Linked DNA regions of Homo sapiens. The protein of the gene in region 1 purifies or fractionates together with the protein of each later gene. This does not show direct contact. Each region holds a gene or a part of one and is shown in the gene's direction. Other genes may lie near its edges. The genes, in order: SMC2 and NCAPG2.

Region 1 (7,284 bases):
TTTTTTTTTTTTCCTGAGACGGAGTCTCGCTCTGTTACCCAGGCTGGTCTCCATCTCCCGGGTTCAAGAGATTCTTCTGCCTCAGCCTCCTGAGTAGCTGGGACTACAGGTGCCCACCACCACACCCGGCTAATTTTTTTTTGTTTTTTGTATTTTTAGTAGAGACGGGATTTCGCTATGTTGGCCAGGGTGGTCTCAATCTCCTGACCTCATGATCTGCCCGCCTTGGCCTCCCAAAGTGCTAGGATTACAGGTGTGAGCCACGGCGCCTGGCCCAAGATTTTGTTTTTAAAAATGTTGTCAACTCCTATTTACTGTCCATCTTATCATTTATCACTTACAGATTTTCTCCTCTATTTTAATGGAAGCCTCTGGTTGAAAAAAAAAAAAAAAAAAGAAGCGTAGGCCACGTTAGGACAGAATCCTGTTCCATGTCATTAGGCATCCATCAAATATTTATCCTTTAGGAACTGTCACTAAGTCTCTTACTAATAATCTACCTAATTGTTCCTGTCCTCATTCAGGCCATAAACTTGTATCTTCACCAAAATTATAAAATTTTTGTCAGAGAAGGGTCTTCAAATACATTAATATATGAACTACCAACCTAGTAGTCCTGTCAGGAAAAGAAATGAACTAACATTTATTCAATATTTATTAAATAGTTGATGTATATTGGGTGTTCTTGAATGTACTGGGATGTACAGTTAGAAGAATGAGAAACAGAGCTTGTCTTTAAGGACTTCAATCTGGTAGATGAGACAATCATACCCAATAAATGACAATTTAAGTGTGATAGTAGAGTATGGTGTCTGGGATGACTTAATGAAACCATACTGAAGCTCCATGATTACCCTTTCTTTTAAATGGTCATAAATCATGTCTTTATTAATAGCTTTTTGAATCTTGTCAAGAATTGATACTAAGCTACTTTGTCTGACATCTATTCCTGTTGAAAAGTAGAGAAAGCCTCTAGAAAAATTACAGAAAGAAAGTAACTAGGAAAGTGTGTTTTACATATACTTGGAAACATAAAGCTAGAAGTTACCTCGGAGACCTAGTCTGGTGCAGGCCAGGGTAAGAGGCTTGTGTGTAATTACATAACTAGTTACCAAAAGTACTTGCATTAGATACTAGCTGTCCTGACTCAAGTTAGCGTTTTTGACCATGTCATACTTGTTCCACTATTTATGCAGAATTGGTTTTGTTTACTGCTAGTCAGACAGAACAAATAAACGTAAGCTAATATACTTAGTTTATCCTAGCACAAGGTGTGCATGTACATTAATATTTAAAAAATTGCTTTCTTTTATAGGTGGTTATTGGTGGTAGAAATAAATATTTAATCAATGGAGTCAATGCCAACAACACCAGAGTACAGGATCTCTTCTGTTCTGTTGGCCTTAATGTTAACAACCCTCACTTTCTCATCATGCAGGTATTTCGTTTGAGGTCTTTATATCACTTTCGTAATAGTTTCGACATTTTTTACTTTTAAGCAATTAAAATAGAAGTACTTTATGTTTTGGATTTTATACTTTTTATTTACTATTGTGCTGTGTCCGGCCATCTGTTTAGAAATATGGTTTAGTTACTTGCACTGATATATTCTACTGGATTATAGACCTTTGACTCCTCTAGAATGTTTAGAAGTAATTTTTGTTGACTTTTTGTTTTGTCACTAAAAGAACAATACATGTTAACTGTAAAAAAAAAAAAGCCATAATATATCCTTTTAAATTATTGGATTAATGCATCTTAATATTTCAAGTATAAAAGCTTGAGTAATTTTCTTAGAGACTCACACAAATGAGGAGTAAAGGCTGATTTTATCTTACATTTACATTACTTCATTTGACCCATCCAGCTGCCGTTTGAGAGAATTATAGTAAAGTCGATGGGAGCATCTCAGTGGGACCAAAATAAAAATATTTCCACTACACACCTTCATAGTTGAAACTTTACTTTAAATGAATCTACATTCTAGTAATACAATTCTCTGAGACCTGGGTGTGCAGGTGTTTTGCTTTATTTGTTTTTGGTAATGAATAAATTTAATGGTTTTCTGGCATTGATGTAAAATATTGTATTTTGTTTGAGGCCTAGAAGTATGTCATCTGTTTTGTGAAATTATCCTGGAGGGTTATCATTCAAAGAAATGTTAAAAGTTTTTTAATTATGCTGAAATTTCTTTTTATATTTACCTGTTTTAAATTTGAATATTTCTACTTAATGTTAACTGTCTCAGAAACATGATCCTTGTTAACTTTGTATCATTTAATGAATTATTTCATTTGTATCATTTCATAACTTCCATAATTTGTATCACTGGTGAGAAAGTGAATAGCAAAGTTCCAAAATTCTAGAATCATAGAAGAATTATAGAGGAAAGACCCCCCCAAAGATTGGTATATTGAGATACAACAGCTTCAGTCTAGATAAACATGAATGGCAGTACAGATAAACATTTTCTGTAATTTGTTATCTTAGTAAGTTTGCTATTTTATTTTCAGGGCCGAATTACAAAAGTATTGAATATGAAACCTCCAGAGGTAAGAGTACTATTTATGGACATTAAAAATAGTTGGTATAGATATTACTTTAATCTTTCAGACAATTTTTAAATATTCTATTAAAATTTTTGGAGACATTATTTGGGAATGATTAGTAAAGACAGTTGTATATTTGTGTAATATTTGGCACTATGCCCAAATATTAAAATTGATTTTGATTGTATAAAGGAGTCTTGCTTAGCTGGTGTTTCATGTCAGAATTCATTCCTACAGAAAAAGCCTACAGGAAAAGGTTTGTGTGAAATTACTATATTTAACCTATATGGTTCATTTGGGCCAACTTTTGGTAAGATGTTTAGTGAGGTCAAGGCAAAAATGATATATTTAATGTAAATTCCAGTTGGACACATTGTCTTGGATACTAAACATTAATAAAATTGTCATTCCAGATTTTATCCATGATAGAAGAAGCAGCTGGAACCAGGATGTATGAATACAAAAAAATAGCTGCACAGAAAACTATAGAAAAAAAGGAGGCTAAGCTGAAAGAAATTAAGACGGTAATTTAATTCATATAAAATATTTTCGGAGAAGAATGTAATTTTGCATGTAGAGTTTTTGCTGTAAAGAGGGAAAAATTTTTTTCCTTGGTTCAGTTTTCCATAGTCATCCCTGCTACTTCTCTTTCAAATAAATTTTAATGATACTTTACATGCGAAAATACTGATTTTTCTTTATTTTCCAGATACTTGAAGAAGAGATTACTCCAACCATTCAAAAATTAAAAGAGGTATATTCTGTATATGTGAGGATAATCTATTAGAATGTCTTTCAAAGTCAGCAATGTATCCAAAATCATACACATAGTGATACTATTTCTTGGGGGTTTTTTTCCTGCGATGAGATAAGGAATTAGAGTTGGCACTCCATAACTCAGCGTTCTGCTTACAGAGGATATGCACTTATCTGCTAAGTCATAGGATATTGGAGAGTAATTTTTATAGTTTCAGAAAATGGTATGCCGAATTTTAATACTTTATTTAAGCTAAGCAAGTCTGGATTTTCCTAGTTAGTTAGCATTGACTGGAACAACATTTCTTAAAGATAAGGCACTCTTAGACACCCTCATTGAGAACAATTTCCAGGATAACAGGGGCTATCACTATAATTATTGCTATCAAGGTATTTTGTAAGCAAAAGGTATTGAAACAGAGGATTGGATTGTCTCTGTAATCTTTGCAGCTCCTGACTGTCAAAAGACATGGCACAATATGTCATCAAAAAATGCATTTATGAGCTACGTTTTCTTTTTCTTGAGACTAGTCTCACTGTCGCCCAGGCTGGAGTGCAGTGGTGTCATCACAGCTCACTGCAGCCTCCACCTCCCGGTCTCAAGGGATCCTCCCACCTTAGCCTTCTGAGTAGCTGGGACTACAGGTGCATGCCACCACACCCTGCTAGTTTATTTTTTTGTAGAGACAGGGTTTCTCATTGTTTCTCAGGCTGGTCTTGAACTCCTGGGCTCAAGTGATCCACCTGCCTCGGCCTCGCAAAGTGCTGGGATTACAGGAGTGAGCCACTGTGCCCAGCCAAACGACGTTTTTAAAGCTATCTCCTTTTAGGAATTTATTAAATGCTCATTGAAATTTGGTACTACTCAGAGCTGTCTTGTGAATCCATATAGTAGTATAAATTTTACTGGAAAAATTGTAATCTTGAAGATACCCTTTTTGTATGTATGATTTAGTAGAAAACACTAGATCAGGAATTTAAACTTAGGTCCTAGACTTCATTTTGCCACAATTGCTTTCTAAATCTAACAACATGGACAGATCATTTAATCATTCTGAATTTGTTTTTTATGTATAAATTAAGGATTTTAGTTATTACTTTGTCTGGTCCCAGTAGGTCCTTATGGGAGTCGTGTTTAGTAATGATGTAAGCGAGTGCTTGTAGTAGTGCTTCAAAGTATATTAGAGTAGGCATCTTGATACTACTACTACAGAATCCATGTAATAGTGTAACATGGTGGGTGTGTAAGCTTATGAACCTTATGTCCATATTTCTTTGTTAAGCTCAACTACCCAAGTGTGTGTTAGAAGAAATAGCCAAATAAGATTCACTAGAGATGGTAGAATGCTATCTAAAAGTCCTGACTTCTGATGTTACGTAAAGTTTCCTACAATTTAAAATGCTATAATTGTTTAATACAGGACAAAATCTATTATGTAATGAGAAATTTGTTTCATCTTGCATAATTGAATTTTTTTTTTAATACAATTTTGAGTTATTCTTTTTTTGTGATTTCTCTTTCAGGAAAGATCGTCCTACTTGGAGTACCAAAAAGTAATGAGAGAAATAGAACATTTGAGTCGTTTATATATTGCTTATCAGTTTTTGCTGGCTGAAGATACCAAAGTACGCTCAGCTGAGGAATTAAAAGAAATGCAAGATAAAGTTATAAAGCTTCAGGAAGAATTGTCTGAGAATGATAAAAAAATAAAAGCACTTAATCATGAAATAGAAGAATTGGAAAAAAGAAAAGATAAGGTCTGAACATATGTATAAGAATCGATAATATACTCTGTGAAAAACGTACTAAATTATATATAGTAACTATTTAGGATTCATTGGGCATTGTCTTCCGTATTGATTTGTTAATCTTATAGTAAGATAATGAAATAACTTATAAAAAAGTGTTTGATACAGAACTCATACAATAAAATGACAGCGTGAACAAATTTTACATAAGTGATTGAATTGACTGCATTTTGTTATAGGAAACTGGAGGTATACTTCGATCTTTAGAAGATGCTCTTGCAGAGGCTCAGCGAGTTAATACTAAATCTCAAAGCGCATTTGATCTCAAGAAGAAAAATCTGGCATGTGAGGAAAGCAAACGCAAAGAGCTGGAAAAAAATATGGTTGAGGTAAGTGAGCTTAATGTGCCACTAGTGCCACTTGTAGACAAGTATATAGTCTCATTAGTGTACATTTATCTATTCCATGAATATTTAGTGAGTGTCTTCTATAAGCTAAGTACAGTTGTTTGGGCTGTGGTTACAACTGGACCAAATGGTCAAAAATCCTTGCCTTGTGGACCTTCATTCCATTGGGGGAAATGATAATAAAGAAAATAAATAAAACATGTAACATGTTATAGAGTGATAACTGATGTGGAGAAAAAGCAGGGAAGGGGATTAGGAGTGTAGGGGAAAAAGAGTACAATTTGGGATTTTAAGTTGGATAGCCACTGAAGTAAGTGGAGAATAGGAAGAACGGGTTTGATAAGCTTAAGAAATACAGTATGAATATAATAGGCTTGAGGAGCCTGTTAGACATCTTGAGTAGTGATGTTGATTAGGTACTTAACTATATGAATATTGAATCCAGGCAAAAATACAGATTTGGAGGCATCATCAATGTATAGGTGTTATTTAAATCCATGAGACTAGATAAAATGATCAAGGCTGTAAGTTCATATAAGAAGGTTGGAGCCCTGGGATACTTTCAACGTTTGAATGTTAGGATAGTTCAACATTCAAAAGAGATTGAGTAGTGTGAGGAAAATTAGGCCAGTAAATTGTCCTGGAGTCCAGGTAAAAAAGATGTTTCAAGGAGAAGTGGCCATGAGTACCTGATTAGATTGTGTTCATACTCTCACAGAATGAAGGCAGAAAAAAGAAAAGTGAATATAGATAACTTTTTGAGAAGTTTTCTGAAAGAGGGATAAATAGGGAGGTAACTGGAGGGTAATACAGAAGAGAGTTTTTGGCTTGATTTGACATGGGATAAATAAATTCTATATTGACAGAAAAGATCCAGTAGAAAAGTCGTCATTTGTGATTCAGGAGAGAGAGATGGGAGAGTTGTTAAAATAGGGCCCCTTAGTAGCTGCAAGTAGGATAGGAACTAGTGTATAGAGGAGGTCGCCTTCGCGAGAACTAGGAATAGGTCATCCATGGTAACAGAAGAGTCAAGTATATAGTCTCACATGTAGGTAGATGAGTAGGTGTGTTTTTGGAGCTTATGGCATTTCTTTTGAGGGTGATTCTGTTGTCCCAGTGAAGGTATACATTTGCCTTTTCACTGAAAAAAAATTAACTTTGTGAAAATAATTTCTTTATACTGCCCTGTTAGATATTTTTGCAGAGAAATACATTGTTGAATTAAGAAACAGTGGAGGAAAATTTAGACAAAATTTTGAAGCGATATGAACGTGTTGTAGCAGTCTGTGTTGTGGCATCCAAGAACTGAAATCAATTCATCAATTACTTTTTTTTTTTAGGTGAGGTTTGTAAAGCTCTAAACATGTGGACCTGCCTTGTTTTGGGTTCATTTTTCTTTAGTCTTGTCATGTCCTTAAGCTTCACACACTGATTGCTCCTTTTTCATCCTTCTTTTCTGTATCCCCTTATTCTTCTAGATCTCTTAATGTTAGTATGCCCTAAGGCTAGCACTCTGATATCTTTTATAAACTCTCACGCCATAGGTGGTCTCATCCAGCTCTGTAACTCTAAATATCATCTATATGTTGATGCCCTCCAAATCTATAAGCAGGCTTAACTCCCTAAACTCTATGAAGCAGGTTTATTGTGTGCAGATTACCAACTTGTCTGAAGCCAGCAGACATAACACATTCATACACAACATTTTATGTGAAATGGATTTATTACTTATTGATAGGCAACAAGGGAAAACAGAAGTCTAGGATTCATTGCAAGCTGATCTCCCAAGGCTCAGAAAAGCTGCCTAGGGTGGTTTGAATTTT
Region 2 (7,284 bases), on another chromosome or scaffold:
ATTGTGTTTTCCATTAGGGTTACAAAATAAATGCCATTTGAACAGTGCCATCTGTCATGGAAAAACGTGAGACGTTTGTACAAGCCGTGTCTAAGGAGCTGGTTGGAGAGTTTTTGCAATTTGTTCAACTTGATGTAAGTTTCATGTTTTAGTTTTGTTGTGATTTTTGACTGTGAATATGAAATATGTTCTAAAGTCATTATGTCCCCAAAAGAAACATAGTTATCTCAGTGAATCCTTAGCGACCAATGTTTATTTGAAAGAAGAAAACAAAACCCTTTATACTCAAATCTACCTGCTGGTGGGCTACGCTAAGATGTAAAAGATAAACAGAAGTTAACCAGTCAAAGAGGGATGTTGGGGGAAAGGACCCATCTAACAAAGAAGGTCACTCTGAAGACTAGAGAAGGTTTGTTGTGTTTGAACTTGAAGTTCAGCAGGAAGGCAGAAGATGAGGCTGGGGGCTAGGCTACACGAGTCTTTACCATTTTAAGGAATTCAGACTTTATCTTGAGAACGGTGGGTGCTTGAAGCAGGGAGCGAGCTGTAGGCAAGGGAGGAAGAGAACAAAAGAGAAGGAGAGAGAACTAGTGGACAAAATAGAGGTAAGGAGAAAAATATGGTTTGCCTTTTGGAAATATTCCTCTGACTACAAGTGAGAAATATGTCAAAGGGACATATTTAAGGCTAACCTCTTAGGTTGTGCTCTTCAAAATGATGGTTGAATTAGGAACTGGAAATGGGAAGCTGCTTGGTAGTGAAGTGATGGCACTATTGGACTGATTGGATATGGATATGGTGGGGAAGGGCCCAGGCGTCTGACTGTGTAGTACCATTCAGCAAGCTCATGAACGTGGGAAGAGGGCAGATTCAAGGGAGAATGTGGCTCCATTTTGGAGGTACCAGATGACTGGTGGTGGGATGTGCACCAGCGGATGGCCAGTAGTCAGACATGCACGTCTGGATACCAGGGGAAAGGGCTGAGCTAGAGACAGGTTGGGCATGGAAGCCTAAGTCATGGGAATGCCTGCAGTTATCTCTGTAGAGTTTCAGATAAAAGGGCCTAGGACACATCTCTGAGGAAGCCAGCATTGGAGGCACTGACTCTGAAATACGAAAGTATCTTTGGGGCAGGAGACCCTTGGCACACTTGTCTCACTTGTTCTTATTATGTGGTGAAAATCAAATTAGTGACAAAGAATTAGAGGAATCTAATAATGAATTTGTTACTGGCAACATTTAAGAAATCATTTTTCTTTATAAGAGAAATGAGCTTATAACATGTTTTGGTATTATAAAATGATATCCTGTAAACTTAAAAATAATCGCAAACTCATAGGCATCTCATCACCATAGAAGTGTTTATAAGAGCAAATTAGTTAGATAATATATAAATGTCTGCTTTAGCAGTAGCAGTGTATATGGATTGTATTGGAAATGCAGTACATACATATTTTAAAGTCTAAAAGATTGTTGTTGCAAAGTGCATACCATAATGTTAACAAAATCACAGAAAACTAAATTGAAAATCAGAGGTAAAAATAGCAACTCAAAATCACACTGGTGGCCACAATGACAGGTGCCCTTCTGGGGTGCGTTGTTTCCAGCCACCCGTTGTGTGCCAACCAGCCTTTGCAGTGTTGCTGGAAAGCCAGCAGACATCTCAGGAGAATACTGAATTAGTCCTTATACTAATGAGGCATTAACTCTAGTTTATCAATAAGCTTTATTAACACTTAACAGTTCAGCTTAGTACCTAGTCACCGTGTGGCTCTTACGTGTAAAAATGAAAATGTGTAGGATTGTGCATCACGTGGTTTCATCAAGTTGAATGACAGAAATGCCATTTTATATAATAATGATGGTTTCCCATAGTTCAATTTGATAAGAATTTAAATCAGTTTGGGGCCTATCAGGTAGATCTTTCCAAGTACAGTTAGTTCTGCTGTAATCCCACACATGCATTACCAACAGTCACTGCACTCTGCAGAATTGGTTAAAATAAATAAATAAATAAATAAATAAATAACCCAGAGAGATTATGGGGAAAATGGAGTTAGAGGGACAACACTAAAAAATTTTGCCAGTGACATGTTAAAAACAGGAACCTAATAAAACAGTAGCATAATTTTATATGTTAAATCAGTAAGAAATGCATAAATACTATAGTAAGCATGGCACTTTACCTTGAAAAATATTTACATTCTATAGTTGGGAGTAGGTGCCTGTGCTCCCAAGGTACACCTGCCCCTCTGTGTGTAAGAGGAAGAAAATGAGGTAGAACAGAGGAGAAAAAGGCAAGCAAGGCAGAGGGGAATACAGAGCATTGGAGAGCACGGTGGGCCTGGGGAGGGTGCAGTGCAGTGGGGTTGGAGCCTTTGGGTCATAGCAGGTGAGGGGCACAATGTGTGGCCCAGGTATGAATGGACTGAGCTGGTAGGTGTCTGAGTTGTGTTTCATGGGATCCTGGTGGCTCCAGTCAGTGGGTGCAGTTTTCTGCATTCACCTGGTATTTCTTGCCTATGAAATCCCACATAAGCAAATGGGAATTTGCCTTTGGTCAAATTGTTCCTTGATGTATTGACAATGTTGGAACAAATTTTTATTTTCAAGCAAGTGTTCCAGAGTGGAGCTGATTATACTGTATGCCCTTGTCCTTCTTGGAGAATCAATGATGGGGAGGAGGACACAGCACTGAGGAGAATTCCATCATTTAACAAACATGTCCTAAGTGCCTTCTGTGTGCCAGACACTGCACTGAGAGTTGGGGTTATAGTACACACAAAGAAAAGTTTCTGCACAAATGGGGGTTTATGTTCTAGTGGTAGAGGAAGAAAAACAAGACACATAGAGAAATAATAAAGCAGGTGGAGGCTGGGCACAGTGACTCACCTCTGTAATTCCAGAGCTTTGGGAGGCTGAGGCAGGAGGATCGTTTGAGGCCAGGATAACACTGGCCTGGGCAACATAGTAAGACCCCGTCTCTACAGTAATGTTAAAAAATTGGCCTAGTGTAGTGGCTTGTGCCTGTGGTCCCAACTACTTGGGAGGCTGAGGCAGTAGAATTACTTGAGCCCAGGAGTTTGAGGCTACAGTGAGCTATGATTGTGCAACTGCACTCCAGCCTGGGTGACAAAGTGAGACCCTGTCTCAAAAAAAAAAAAAAAATACTACTACTACTGATAAAGCAAGTGGAAGTGGAAGTTGGGAACGATGGAGTGGCTAAAGAAAACCTCAGAGATGATATTTGAACAGAGTTGGTACAGTCACATGACTCTTGATGAGGATAGGTTCTGAGAAATGCATCATTAGGTCATTTCATTGTTGTGTGAACATCCTAAAGTGTGCTTACATACACCCAGATGGAGCAGCTCAGTACACACCTGGGCTAGATGGTACAGTCTACCGTCCTAGGCTACAAACCTGTGTGGCATGTTACTGTACTGAATACTGTAGGCACAGTGTTGTAACACAATGGTGTGTGTCTAAACATTGAAAAGGTACAGTAAAAATACAGTATAAAACATAAAAAATGGTACATCTGAATAGGGCACTTAGTGTAGCTGGAGCTGGCACAACTGGAAGTTGTTCTGGGTGAATAACTGAGTAGTGAGTAAATGTGAAGGCCTAATACGTCATTGTACACTACTGTAAACTATAAACACATTACACTTGGGCTACAGTAAATTTATAAAAACATTTTTCTTCAATAATAAATTAACCTTAGCTTACTGTAACTGTTTTACTTGATAAACTTTTAAAATCCTTTATAATAACACTTAGCTTAAAACACAAACTTATTTTGCTTTACAAAAAATCTTTCTTCATTTTATTTTATTTTAACTTTTATATTCAGGGTTACATGTACAGGTTTGTTACATAGGTCAACTTGTCTCATGGGGGTTTATTGTACAGATTATTTCATCACTGAGGTATTAAGCCTAGTAATTAGTTATTTTTAGTTATTTAGTTATATTAGTTATTTTTCCTGATCCTCTCCCTCCTCCCACCCTCTACCCTCCAATAGGCCAGTGTGTGTTGTTCCCCCGTGTCCATGTGTTCTCATAATTTAGCTCCTACTTATAAGTGAGAACATGCTGTATTTGGTTTTCTGTTCCTGTGTTAGTTTGCTATGGATAATGGCCTCCAGCTCCATCTATGTCCCCGCAAAGGACTTGATCTCATTCTTTTTTTATGGCTGTATAGTATTCCATGGTGTATATGTACCACATTTTCTTTATCCAGTCTATCATTGATGGGCATTTAGGTTTATTCCATGTCTTTGCTAAAAATACTCTCTTTATACCCCTATTTGATAGCTTTTTTCTATTTTTACTTTTTTTTTTTTTTCTTTTCAGTTGGAGCCTTGCTCTGTTGCTCAGGCTGGAGTGCAGTGGCGTCGTCTTGGCTCACTGCAACCTCCGCCTCCCGGGTTCAAGTGATTCTCCTGCCTCAGCCTCCTGAATAGTTGAGATTACAGGCACACGCCACCACACCGGCTAATTTCTGTATTTTTAGTAGAGACAGGGTTTCGCCATGTTGGCCAGGCTGGTCTCAAACTCCTGATCTCAGGTGATCCACCTGCCTTGGCCTCCCAAAGTGCTGGGATTACAGGTGTGAGCCACCATGCCCAGCCATCTATTTTTACTTTTTAAACTTTTTTGTTAAAAACTAAGACACAAATATACCATAAGCCTGGGCCTGTACCAAGTCAGGATCATCAGTATCACTGTCTTCCACCTTAACATCTTGTCCCAGTGGAAGGTCTTCAGGGGCAATAACAGACATGCAGCTGTCATCTCATCTCCTATGATAACATTGCCTTCAGGAATTTCTCTTGAAGCACCTGCCTAAGGCTAGTTTACAATTAACTTAAAAAAATGTAGAAGGAATATACTCTAAAACAATGATAAAAAGTAGGTTTGTTTACACCAACATTACCACAAATGTGATTAATCTGTTACACTATGATGTTTTGACAGCCATGACATCACTAGGTGATAGGAATTTTTCAGCTCCATTATAATCTTATGGGACCACTCTCATATATGTGGTTTGTCATTGACTGAAATATCACTATGCATTGCCTGACTATATTTGATCAGAGATCCAAATGGGCCATGCAGAGATTTGGGAAAAGAAGATTCTAGACAAAAGGAATGGGAAAGGCCGAGCCCCTGAGGCAGGGCACATTTGGGAAGCTAAGGGTGTGGACTTAGGAGGAGGAGGGTGGCAGGGTTAGGGTGGAGAAGTAATTTCTTTCCTGTTGAAATAACTGCTAAGTTAAAAGAAAAGTTGCAAGAGGAATTCAAAGGAATCCTGAATACCCTACGTCCAGGTTTGCCAGTTTTTACCACTTGCCACATTTTCTTTATCATCCTTTGTATTTACATTTTTTTGAATCACTTGAGTCAGTTGTAGGCATTGTGCCTCTTTATCTCTAAACATTTCAGTTCGTATTTTTCTAAAAGATATTCTGTTATATAATCACATTAAAATCCTCAAAATCAGGAAATTTAACATTGTGGATAATCCTGTTAAATAACCCTCTGCAGCCTATGTCCTCTCCTCTTGAATCTGGATTGGGCTTGTGCCTGCTTTGACGGACGGAATATTGAGGAAGTGGCCTTCAGAAAGTTTGGCAGCTTCTACTTCCTCTCGGAGCCCGTGGTTGTCATGTAAGAAGTGCAGGATCACCCTCTGCTGGAGAGAGAGACCACACACAAAGGCTGGAGGATGAGACTGCAGAGGGAGACCTCATTAGTGGGCACCAAAGTGCCAGACATCCAACACCCAGCTGCCACCTTAAGCACAGGCATGTGTCCCCAAGAGTGAGCATCTGATTCATGAGATACAGTAAAATTGTTGCTTTATGCTACCAAGTTTTTTGCTACGCAACAAGACTTCCCCTGCTTCATACACATTGTGCCAGTCACAAGAGGATACCTCCCTCTGGGCATATAGACTACAAAAAGGCACCTTGCTGGGGCACAGGTGGCCAGGGCACTCACACAGGGAGGAGAGGCCCTGCAGGATGTCCACCCCACCGGCCCCTCATCCTGGTGCGCTCTGTACAGCACAGGGCTGCACAGCTTCTGCATCCGGGGGCTGGAGGTGGTTGTGGAAGGATGCCCACAGGCAGCTCGCTAGTCTGCACGTGTTCTTTCTAACTGCTGGGCTTTTGTGTTGCCCTGCCTTTGCCCAGTGTCCTATGGCCCTAGAGGCCTGGGCCGTCACTGCTAATGTCGTGGCAATGCCAGGCAATGACCACCCCAAGGCCATGCTGGGGAGAGGTAGAACATTTTGATATTTGAACAGCTTTTGTCCCCCATCCTTTCCTTGCCCTTCCAGCCAGCTCTTCAGTGCCCTAGGCAACAGCCACTCATTTCTCACATCCCCAGCTCCAAACAGCCTTCAGTGAAGCTGGGTGTGTGTCTCATTTTGTTGCTATAGTTTGTTACTGGAACCTCTCTCACTCTCATTTCTTCAGGGTTGATTTTTCAGGAAGGAGTTAGCAGCCCATCCTAGTTTGTCACATAGGTGGATGGGCAGCTATTTCTTTTCCTTCAGGCTATATCCTTCAGCATACACCTCTAATAGATTTTAACAATCTGTAGGTTGTTATTCTTGCCCCTAGACTGTGAACTTACTCAGGGCAGGGTGGGTCCTGATTCGTTTCTGTGCCCTAACCATCAGTCAACTAGTATTTCCTGATGTAAGCGTCATGAATCAGCCCAGTCATTTCTCTGGTCACCTTCAGTCACCAGAGTTTGCCCTGAATAGAACCTCTTGATCTTTGAACACAGTAGCTGTGGTCCATCACCCAGATGAATGACCCCAGCACCAAAACTGTCCATTGATATACTGGAAAATTACCATTAATGGACTTAAGCGGGCCATTAACTTATTTTTTCTGCATAATTGAGGCGTAAAGAATTATTCAATTGTTCATGATTGAATGTCGGGTCTATAGGTAGATCAAGATACTGTCTAAGGTCAAACATTTGAGAGCTGGTCTGTGTTTGCATGTGATTGACAGGCAAAGGCTTAAGGAAAATGGAGAGGAGAATTGAAGGGGAGGAGGGTCAAGGAAACGAGGAAAGAGAGTAGATAGAAGTGAACAAGCGGAGGTGGAAAAAGCTAGATGAAAAATGAAGGAGCGCTAAGAAGAGGAGAAAACAAACACCAGGGCAGGAGAGGAGCTAGGAGAGCAGGAAGAGAGGATGGGGGGATGGAGGGCTTATGAGGTTATCTTTACTCTAGTTCCTCCATCTTACTGTGTTT

The links.
Region 2: the proteins of SMC2 (region 1) and NCAPG2 purify together in Homo sapiens (affinity purification with western blotting; 4 studies listed by BioGRID and IntAct, with this or other methods). This does not show direct contact.

What each region holds. Positions count from the first base shown.
Region 1 is NC_000009.12:104,097,131-104,104,414, forward strand, and holds part of SMC2 (structural maintenance of chromosomes protein 2), read left to right. Parts: intron 1-1,315; coding exon 1,316-1,438; intron 1,439-2,513; coding exon 2,514-2,552; intron 2,553-2,962; coding exon 2,963-3,073; intron 3,074-3,258; coding exon 3,259-3,303; intron 3,304-4,829; coding exon 4,830-5,063; intron 5,064-5,293; coding exon 5,294-5,443; intron 5,444-7,284. UniProt on the Homo sapiens protein: Central component of the condensin complex, a complex required for conversion of interphase chromatin into mitotic-like condense chromosomes.
Region 2 is NC_000007.14:158,694,672-158,701,955, reverse strand, and holds part of NCAPG2 (condensin-2 complex subunit G2), read left to right. Parts: intron 1-17; 5' UTR 18-56; coding exon 57-134; intron 135-7,284. UniProt on the Homo sapiens protein: Regulatory subunit of the condensin-2 complex, a complex which establishes mitotic chromosome architecture and is involved in physical rigidity of the chromatid axis.